Regions from separate parts of the Homo sapiens genome. Here region 2 is linked to region 1. The links come from fine-mapping of genetic effects on gene expression. A gene starts in region 1. The other region holds a variant in brackets. All regions are shown on one strand. Distances are from middle to middle.

Evidence for each region. PIP is the estimated chance that this variant, and not a neighbour inherited with it, causes the effect.
Region 2: its variant is the best candidate, but not a certain one, in a credible set for the expression of CD52 in whole blood (TOPMed, PIP 0.76).

The regions. Positions count from the first base shown.
Region 1 is chr1:26,315,194-26,319,584 of GRCh38, forward strand. CD52 (CD52 molecule) reads left to right here and starts at 2,765. Exons shown (of 2, transcript NM_001803.3): 1 at 2,765-2,878. The coding sequence starts at 2,825. It also overlaps a transcript of UBXN11 not described here. RefSeq lists a silencer at 2,555-2,747 and enhancers at 2,822-2,891, 3,022-3,171, 3,545-4,391, 3,672-3,771.
Region 2 is chr1:26,237,378-26,241,768 of GRCh38, forward strand. CEP85 (centrosomal protein 85) reads left to right here. Exons shown (of 14, transcript NM_001319944.2): 2 at 2,385-2,461. The coding sequence starts at 2,407. Among named protein-coding and RNA genes, the nearest start is that of CEP85, 5.4 kb to the left of the region's middle. The variant G/A (reference allele first, on the strand shown) is at 2,319.

The sequences.
Region 1 (4,391 bases):
GAAGCTTCTGAGGTTTGCAAGAAAATGTTTACAAATAAGAGTCTGGCATTTAGTATCCTCGCATGCATCTCCAGCATGGGAAACTATAACACGGCTGGCCCCAGGCTCGTCCTGTCTGGCTGCCTCTTTGTAAGAGGGGAGAAGATTGCACAGTGTGATGGAGCTCATTTTCAGCAGAGTAATCTCAGACTTCAACACGGGTATCCTGTCTTCTGGGCTGGTGCCCTTCTGGCACAGGACACCTCCCTGACTCTCATGAACCCCAGAATCACTCACCCCCACAGGCACACCAAAGACAGCTGAGAACTTGAGTCAAGGGTGAGGAGAGACCTCTGGGTGAAAGGGCAGGGATGGGGAAAGAGGGTGATGGATGGCTGGGGACTCCTCCCTCTTCTCTCCCTCCCCGCCCCTCCCTCTCCACTTCCTGGCTTTCTCTCATCAGCTTTGACTCTCAGTTCTTCTTTTCTTCTCTTCTCTTTTTTTGAAATGGAGTTTTTCTCTTGTCGCTCAGGCTGGAGTGCAATGGCACGATCTCGGCTCACTGCAACCTCCTTCTCCCGGGTTCAAGTGATTCTCCTGCCTCAGCCTCCCGAGTAGCTGGGATTACAGGCATGTGCCAGCACACCTGGCTAATTTCTGTATTTTCAGTAGAGACAGGGTTTCACCATGTTGGCCAGGCTGGTCTAGAACTCCTGACCTCAGGTGATCCACCCACCTCGGCCTCCCAAAATGCTGGGATTACAGGCGTGAGCCACTGTTTCCTGGCCTTTTTTTTTTTTTTTTTGAGACAGGGTCTTGCTCTGTCACCCTGGCTGGAGTGCAGTGCCACAATCATGGCTCATTGCAGCCTGGGCCTCCCAGGTGCAAGCAATCCTCCTGCGTCAGCCCCCAAGTAGCTGAGACTATAGGTTTGTGCCACTATGCCCGGCTAATTTTTTTTTTTTTTTTTTTTTTTTTTGAGAGATGGGGCCTTCCTATGTTGCCCGGGTGGTCTCAAACTCCTGTGCTCAAGTTATCTGCCCGCCTCAGCCTCCCAAACTGCTAGGATTACAGGCGTAGCCCCTATGCCCAGCCTCTGTTTTTTTCTTTGGACTCAGCCTCAGCCAGATCTCCCCTGGGCTTGCAACACAAGGCCCAAAACAATAGAAGAGAAGTGAGGGGAGTTTTCCCTTTACTACCTAGCATGTAAATGAGGCCTAAAGTAGACTAAGGAAGGGAGAGTGTGAAGGGAGAGTGGGCCAGAGCTGGGGTTGTGGTGACCAACTCCTGGGGCCTGGGGGGAGTTTGTGTAGGGGAGGGGGAGGGAGTGGCAGGGAATCAAGACTTAATGGATGAATTCTAGGGCAGCCCCAGAGGTTACATACATGGCTGTGGCTTCAGACAGACCTGGATTCAAGGTCAAATGAGACTGGCTCCACCATTTACGACCTTAGCAAGTCACTTAACATCTAAGCCTCAGTTTTTTCACCAGTCAAATGGGGATAAACATAACACCTGCTGCAGGGCACCACAGAGGGTATCAAGTGAGGGAATGCATAAAGCATGGAGCACTATCCAGGCAGCTGTGGGATTCCTCTCATCCCCCCACCCCTCCCTGGGCCCTCACAGCCACTCTCTCACCCCAGTCCCCTTCCACTGTAGCTTAGTCACCCACTTGTCCCTTCCCTCGCTCCCCTCCCATTCATCCTCAGCTAATACAAACAACCCATCTGCTTGCTACTTTCTCTACCAAAATCACAAAATTCTAGGTCTTGGCTGGGCGCGGTGGCTCATGCCTGTAATCCCAGCACTTTGGGAGGCCGAGGCAGGCGGATCACTTGAGATCAGGCATTCGAGACTAGCCTAGCCAACATGGTGAAACCCAGTCTCCGCTAAAAAAAAAAAAAAAATACAAAAAATTAGCCAGGCATGGTGGCACACACCTGTAGTCCCAGCTATGCGGGAGGCCAAGGCAGGATAATTGCTTGAACCCAGGAGGTGGAGGTTGCAGTAAGCCGAGATCATGCCAGTGCACAGAGCAAAACTCTGTTTAAAAAAAAAAACAAAAAAACCAACAACAACAAAACAAAACACTAGGTTTTAACAAACTTCAGAAATAATCTATTTCAGTCTTCCCAGTTCCTTGAAATGAGGAACTGAGGCCTAGAGAGGGAAAGCCCAACTGAAACCAGGCTTCCCGATTCCTCACCTCCAGCACCTTCACAGAAATCCACCAACCCTTCCACAATCTAAACATTTCCCAAGCTTTCATTCAGAACCTGCAGCCCATCTACAACCTTCCCTTGAAACATAAATCTATCCCAGCCCTTCTCCTTCAGCTCCTATACCCTGCCCCAATCTTCTTTAAACAACAAACTCATTTACGGAATATCTGCTATGTTCTGGCTCTTTTTAAATTGGTTATTATTACATGTAATCCGGCAGTTCTTTTGTTAAAGGGTCAGAGAGGTAGAGTTTCTGGCCCAGGGTCTCAGAGCTGGTCAGTGATTAAACCAGGATTCAGCCTGCAGGATGCATGATTCCAGGCCTTGGGCCCTACTTACTCCCACCGTTGCCTCTGGATTGACCTCTCTCCTATCTTGTACGATCTAGCCTGCTCCCCCAGCCAGGGCCTTAGAACCTAGAGCCTGGTATTATCCACCCCCAGATCTGCAGAAAGGAAGCCACACCCCTCCTCCACCTTGTAAGCCCTCCTTCCTCTCCCTACCTCACCCCGCCTCCTCTGCCTCCTGGTTCAAAAGCAGCTAAACCAAAAGAAGCCTCCAGACAGCCCTGAGATCACCTAAAAAGCTGCTACCAAGACAGCCACGAAGATCCTACCAAAATGAAGCGCTTCCTCTTCCTCCTACTCACCATCAGCCTCCTGGTTATGGTACAGGTAAGAGCAACGCCTGGCACCACTGCCAGGACTCCCCAAAGTTGCTTGGCATGGAGGGAGGGCATACAGGATGTGAGCTCCCAGAGACCCAGCCTTCTCTCCTGAGAGCACAGCAGATGGACTCCAACAGGAAAACTGGGGACACAGCGGGCCTGGCCGCCCAGCCTTCCAGCTCTTCTGGCTGGGGCTGCACTGCTTGCGGGCTGCCCTGAGAGAAACCTGTATCCACAGCTGGGGAGCACTTACAGGGTGCTAGGCGCGTTGGGGCACCCAAGGGGTGTTGTGGAATAATAGAGAACTAAGAGACTTGGGAAGACAACCCTGAGTGAGGAAGGCATCGGCCCACAGGGAGTCTGGGGAGATGGTCCTTTGGGGAGAGGCCAGGAGATGTCCAAGTGGAGCCTGCTGTGGTTATGGAGGTGACAGGGGACACTCTAACCCCCACTCCCCTGCCAGAGAGAAGCCTGGATGTTCAGGAATGCAAAGAAGACAGGACTCTCCCATTTCAGAAACAACTGGAGTCTCAAAAGCGACTGCTATTCCAGGAGGCAGCTTTGGTAGCATCCCAGGTGCCCAGAGGGGAGTCAGTACAGCAGACCGGAGCCATCAAGTTCTTGATCAAGAACAGCTTGATCACCATCAAAACCAGCTTAATCTCCATCAAGAACAGTTCTAGTTGCAGCTCCATCAAGCATTAAGGACAGCTCGATCACCATCTGGCCACTTCCCCACCCCACATCCAGCCACCCACGCTTTGCCAAGTGCTTTCTCACTCAGCCCTGGCTCATGTGACCTTCACAACTGTGATGAACTTCTCCCCACTCAGAAGATGAAACTGAGGCTCAGGGAAGCTAAGCCCTTTGCCAGGCTAGGAAGGTCAAGGGCCAGGGCTCCCCTGTCTCCCTCTATGCCAGAAGGGCTGGTCGCTGGGGAAAGGTGAAAAGAAAGGTTCTGTGACCGGGCACGGTGGCTCACGCCTATAATCCCAGCACTTTGGGAGGCCGAGGCAGGCGGATCACCTGAGGTCAGGAGTTCAAGACCAGCCTGGCCAACATGACAAAATCCCGTCTCTACTAAAAATACAAAAATTAGCTGGGCGAGCCGGGCGCGCTGGCTCGCGTCTGTAATCCCAGCACTTTGGGAGGCTGAGGCGGGTGGATCATGAGGTCAGGAGATCGAGACCATCCTGGCTAACACATTGAAACCTCGTCTCTACCATAAATACAAAAAGAAATTAGCCGGGCGTGGCGTGGTGGCGGGCGCCTGTAGTCCCAGCTACTCGGGAGGCTGAGGCAGGAGAATGGCGTGAACCTGGGGGTGAAGCTTGCAGTGAGCCGAGATCACGCCACTGCACTCCAGCCTGGGCGGGCGACAGAGCAAGACTCTGTCTCGGAAAAAAAAAAAAAATTAGCTGGGCGTGATAGCGGCTGCCTATAATCCCAGCTACTCGGGAGGTTGAGGGGTGGAGGTTGCAGTGACCCGAGATCATGCCACTTCACTCCAGCCTGGGCAA
Region 2 (4,391 bases), 78 kb before region 1:
CTCCTCTCAGTCCTTTGCAATCACTAATCTGTGTCTCTATGGATTTGCCTATTCTGACATTTCATATAAATAGGATCAAGCCTTTTGTTTGGCTTCTTTGACTTTGCATGTCTTCAGTGTTCATCCATGTTGTCACATGTATCAGTACTTCCTTTTATTGCTGAATAATACTCTGTTTTTTGGATATACCACATTTTATGTATCCATTCATTAGCTCATGGACGTTTGTGTTGTTTCCACTTTTTGGCTATTGTAAATAATGCTGCTACGAACATTCTTATTGAAGCTTTTGTGTAAACCTGTGTTTTCATTTCTCTTGGGTGTATACTTCAGTGTGGAATTGCTGAGTCATAGGGTAACTCGGAGTTCTCCTTCTGTCACCGTATTTTCAACTTGTCTGAATTTAGAAACACCTTAGAATCCAGTGCGCCTACCATTTTGTTATCCTTTAAAGAAAGGAGTGAAGAAAAGGATTTTGATATTGACAAGAAAGGAAATCACTAGTAAGGAGGTAATCTAATCATTCTATGTCATCATTTAACTCACTGAATCATACTTGCCATAAACTAAAGCTTTTATTACTGAACAAAGCTTCCCTCACCCAGTATGTGAAGAACTGGAATTGTGGAGGATGATACCCTTTCTATTGTAGATGCAGTGAATTAATAAGGGTTTGGGTTGTTATGTACTTTAGTGACCTCTATAGTATTCTCTTAGTAACAAGAGAATACTATAGAGGTCACTAAAGTACATTAGAGAAATAGTACCATATAGTCTTTTTTCTCCAGAGTGATAGAATTATGTTCTGTGAATTGTCCCAAACTCTTTTTTTTTTTTTTTTGAGACGGAGTCTTGCTCTGTCGCCCAGGCTGGAGTGCAATGGCGCGATCTTGGCTCACTGCAGCCTCCGCCTCCATGGTCCAAGCGATTCTCCTGCCTCAGCCTCCCAAGTAGCTGGGATTACAGGCGCCTGCCACCATGCCTGGCTAATTTTTGTATTTTTAGTAGAGACGGGGTTTCACCATGTTGGCTGGTCTCGAACTCCTGACCTCAGGTGATCCGCCTGCCTCGGCCTCCCAAAGTGCTGGGATTACAGGCGTGAGCCACTGAGCCCGGCCGAATTGTCCCAAACTCTTTTGGGGCTTTTATAAATTTAGAGTTTCTGAGTTGATACTCCTTGATCTTCCATGGGCTGTACAGTGCTACTTTTGTTGATGTAAATTGCCAAGTAATAACAGCACTTAGTATGTGTCAGGAACTGTTGTAAGTTAATTATAAGTGAATTAACATGAATTAGGTTGTGTTGTTATCCTCATTTTTATATGAAGAAAATGAGGAACAGAGATACTAAGAAATTTGCCCAAGGTTACACAGCTAATAAATTGATAACTTAATGTTTAGTGGGTTCAAGTGTATTTGTTTAGACTTCAAATCCACTTCTGCTGAATTCTCAGCACCTACCCCTAGTGTACTGTAAATATAAATATTTTAAGGAGTGAGAACATGGGACGAGAACTTCACGTTCCTAGCTCAGGATTGGAGTTCTACTTATGAGCAAGAATTCTTTCCCATCTTTTTACATCGTATGACTGACTTTAATTACTGGAAGAATTGAGGAATTTGTTTTGTGTTAATCATAATTGATGCTGTAATACTTCACTGTTGGTTTAGTTCTTTAGTTCTTTATCCACCTCGTCCTGTCATCAGGTCCCCATGGCTAAGAAGATTCATGGTAAAGTTTGTTAATTAAAAGTAATATTTTTAAATTTTATAAAAATCAGAAGGGTTCTAGGACCGTATGGAATCTGTATTGGTAATCTCTGGTTCTAGGTTTTCTATACTGGATTTGGGAAGAGAAGTAGAGTGGAGTATTGGGATTTACTTTGTCTTAAAAATATCCTTAGAAGTAAAACATGTAAAAACATATTTACTCCTAAATATCCTTAGGAATATAACATTTAGAATACTGGAATATTCTTTTTTATTTTTTTTGAGATGGAGTCTTGCTCAGTTGCCCAGGCTGGAGTGCAGTGGTGTGATCTTGGCTCACTGAAACCTCTGCCTCCCGGGTTCAAGCAATCCTTGTGCCTCAGCCTCCCAAGTAGCTGGGACTACAGATGTGTGCCACCATGCCCGGCCAATTTTTGTGTTTTTAGTAGAAATGGGGTTTCCCCATGTTGGTCAGGCTGGTCTCGAACTCCTGACCTCAGTTGATCTGCCCGCCTTGGCCTCCCAAAGTGCTGGGATTACAGGTGTGAGCCACTGTGCCTGGCCAAATACTTGAATATTCTATATGGTTTTGACAGTTTCAGTTGAAT[G/A]GGAACTGAGTTGCGGGGAATTAAAGATACTTCAGAGAACTGACTGGTTATTCCTTCATTCTACAGTTGGCTTAAATAACTGTGATTGATGGCCATGCAGGAGAAATATCCAACTGAGGGGATCTCTCACGTCACTTCACCGAGTGAGTAGTCAGAAGTTTTCTGGGTTAAATTCTGACCTTTGTTCTGTTTTTTCATATTCCTTAAGGTAAATATTGAACAAACAAGCATTCACTGAAATGCTGGTGCTAAAAGAATAAAAATAACATGGGGCTTCATTGAATATAAAAACAGGTCTCTGAGGGAACAAGTATTTATCTCTTGTGCTATGTGGCTTTCAACAGGACCACGTGGTTGGGAGAGGACGACATATAAAGGATTGGAACAGAATGACTTTGGAACATAGTTCCATTTGAAATCAGAAAAACACAGCATAAATTACTGTGTTCTATGTTGTCTTTGTCCTCTGGGTGGGTCAGTCATCTGCTAGCCCACAAAAATAGGAATTCTGCTTGGATGCCAACAGATTCCGTTGCATTGTTACTAGAAACTCAGGAATTTATCTTCAGAATGGATTAACAAGATTTTGAAACTTCAGTAGATATATTAAATATATACAGTCCTTAAGTGTCCATGGCGGACTGGTTCCAAGACCTCCTGCAGATAGCAAAATCCACAGATACTCAAGTCCCTGATATAAAATGGTGTGGTATTTGCATATAACCTGTGTATATCCTAATGTTTACCTTAAATCGTCTCTAGATTACTTGTAATACCCAATGCAATGTAAATGCTATGTAAATAGTTATACTGTATTGTTTGGGGAATAAGAAGAAAAACAAGTCTTATGCACATTCAGTAAGATACCATTAAAAAAAAAAATTGGTTGAATTCACAAACGTAGAAACCACGGATATGGCCAGGCGCTGTGGCTCATGCCTGTAATCCCAGCACTTTGGGAGCCCAAGGCGGGTGGATCACCTGAGGTCAGGAGTTTGAGACCAGCCTGGCCAACATGGTAAAACTCCATGTCTACTAAAAATACAAAAATTAGCCGGGTGCAGTGGCATGTGCCTATAATAATCCCAGCTACTTGGGAGGCTGAGGCAGGAGAATCACTTGAACACGGGAAGCAGAGGTTGAGGTGAGCTGAGATGACGCCACTGCACTCCAGCCTGGGCAACAGAGTGAGACTGTGTCTCAAAAAAAAAAAGGGGAAAAAAAAGAAACCATGGATATGGAGAGCTGACTGTATATTAAACACATAAATATATGTATGCACTGTGCAGGCATATTAAGTAGATAATATATATTTCAAATAAGTAATATTTTAGAAAAATGACTTGTTGAATTCTGGGGTATTGGTAAAGAAGAGGGCACGTTTAATTCAACTCAGGGTATGTTTTATTTAACTTTAAAATCTCACAGTGCCTTACTCAGCGTAGATATTTGGTAAATGTTTGGTGTATTCTCTTAGGCATGCTGCCTTGCATAGAGTAGGCACCATTATAAGCTTTGGTTGAATCAATTCAAGATTCATTCAGCAGAATTTTTTTTTTTTTTTTGAAATGGAGTCTCGCTCTGTCACCCAGGCTAGAGTGCAGTGGCGTGATCTCGGCTCACTACAAGCTCCGCTTCCCGGGTTCATGCCATTCTCCTGCCTCAGCCTCCCAAGTAGCTGGGACTACAGGTGCCCGCCACCATGCCCAGCTAATTTTTTTGCATTTTTTAATAGAGACGGGGTTTCACCATGTTAGCCAGGATGGTCTCAATCTCCTGACCTTGTGATCTGCCCGCCTGGGCCTCGCAAAGTGCTGGGATTACAGGCGTGAGCCACTGCACCCGGCCTCAGGAAATATTTTTTAAACATCTGCTATGTGCTGCACATTCTCTTAGGTTTGTACAGTTTCTATGACAATTATGTATATAATGCAAGTTTTTGGAACAATGCCTTTCCTATGGCTTTTTTCTCTCTTCAATAGTATCTCATTCAGATTAATAATGGTCTTAATAATTGATAAGGATGCTACTGATAGGACATGCACTATAACACAAAAAATTTCAGCTTTTCTT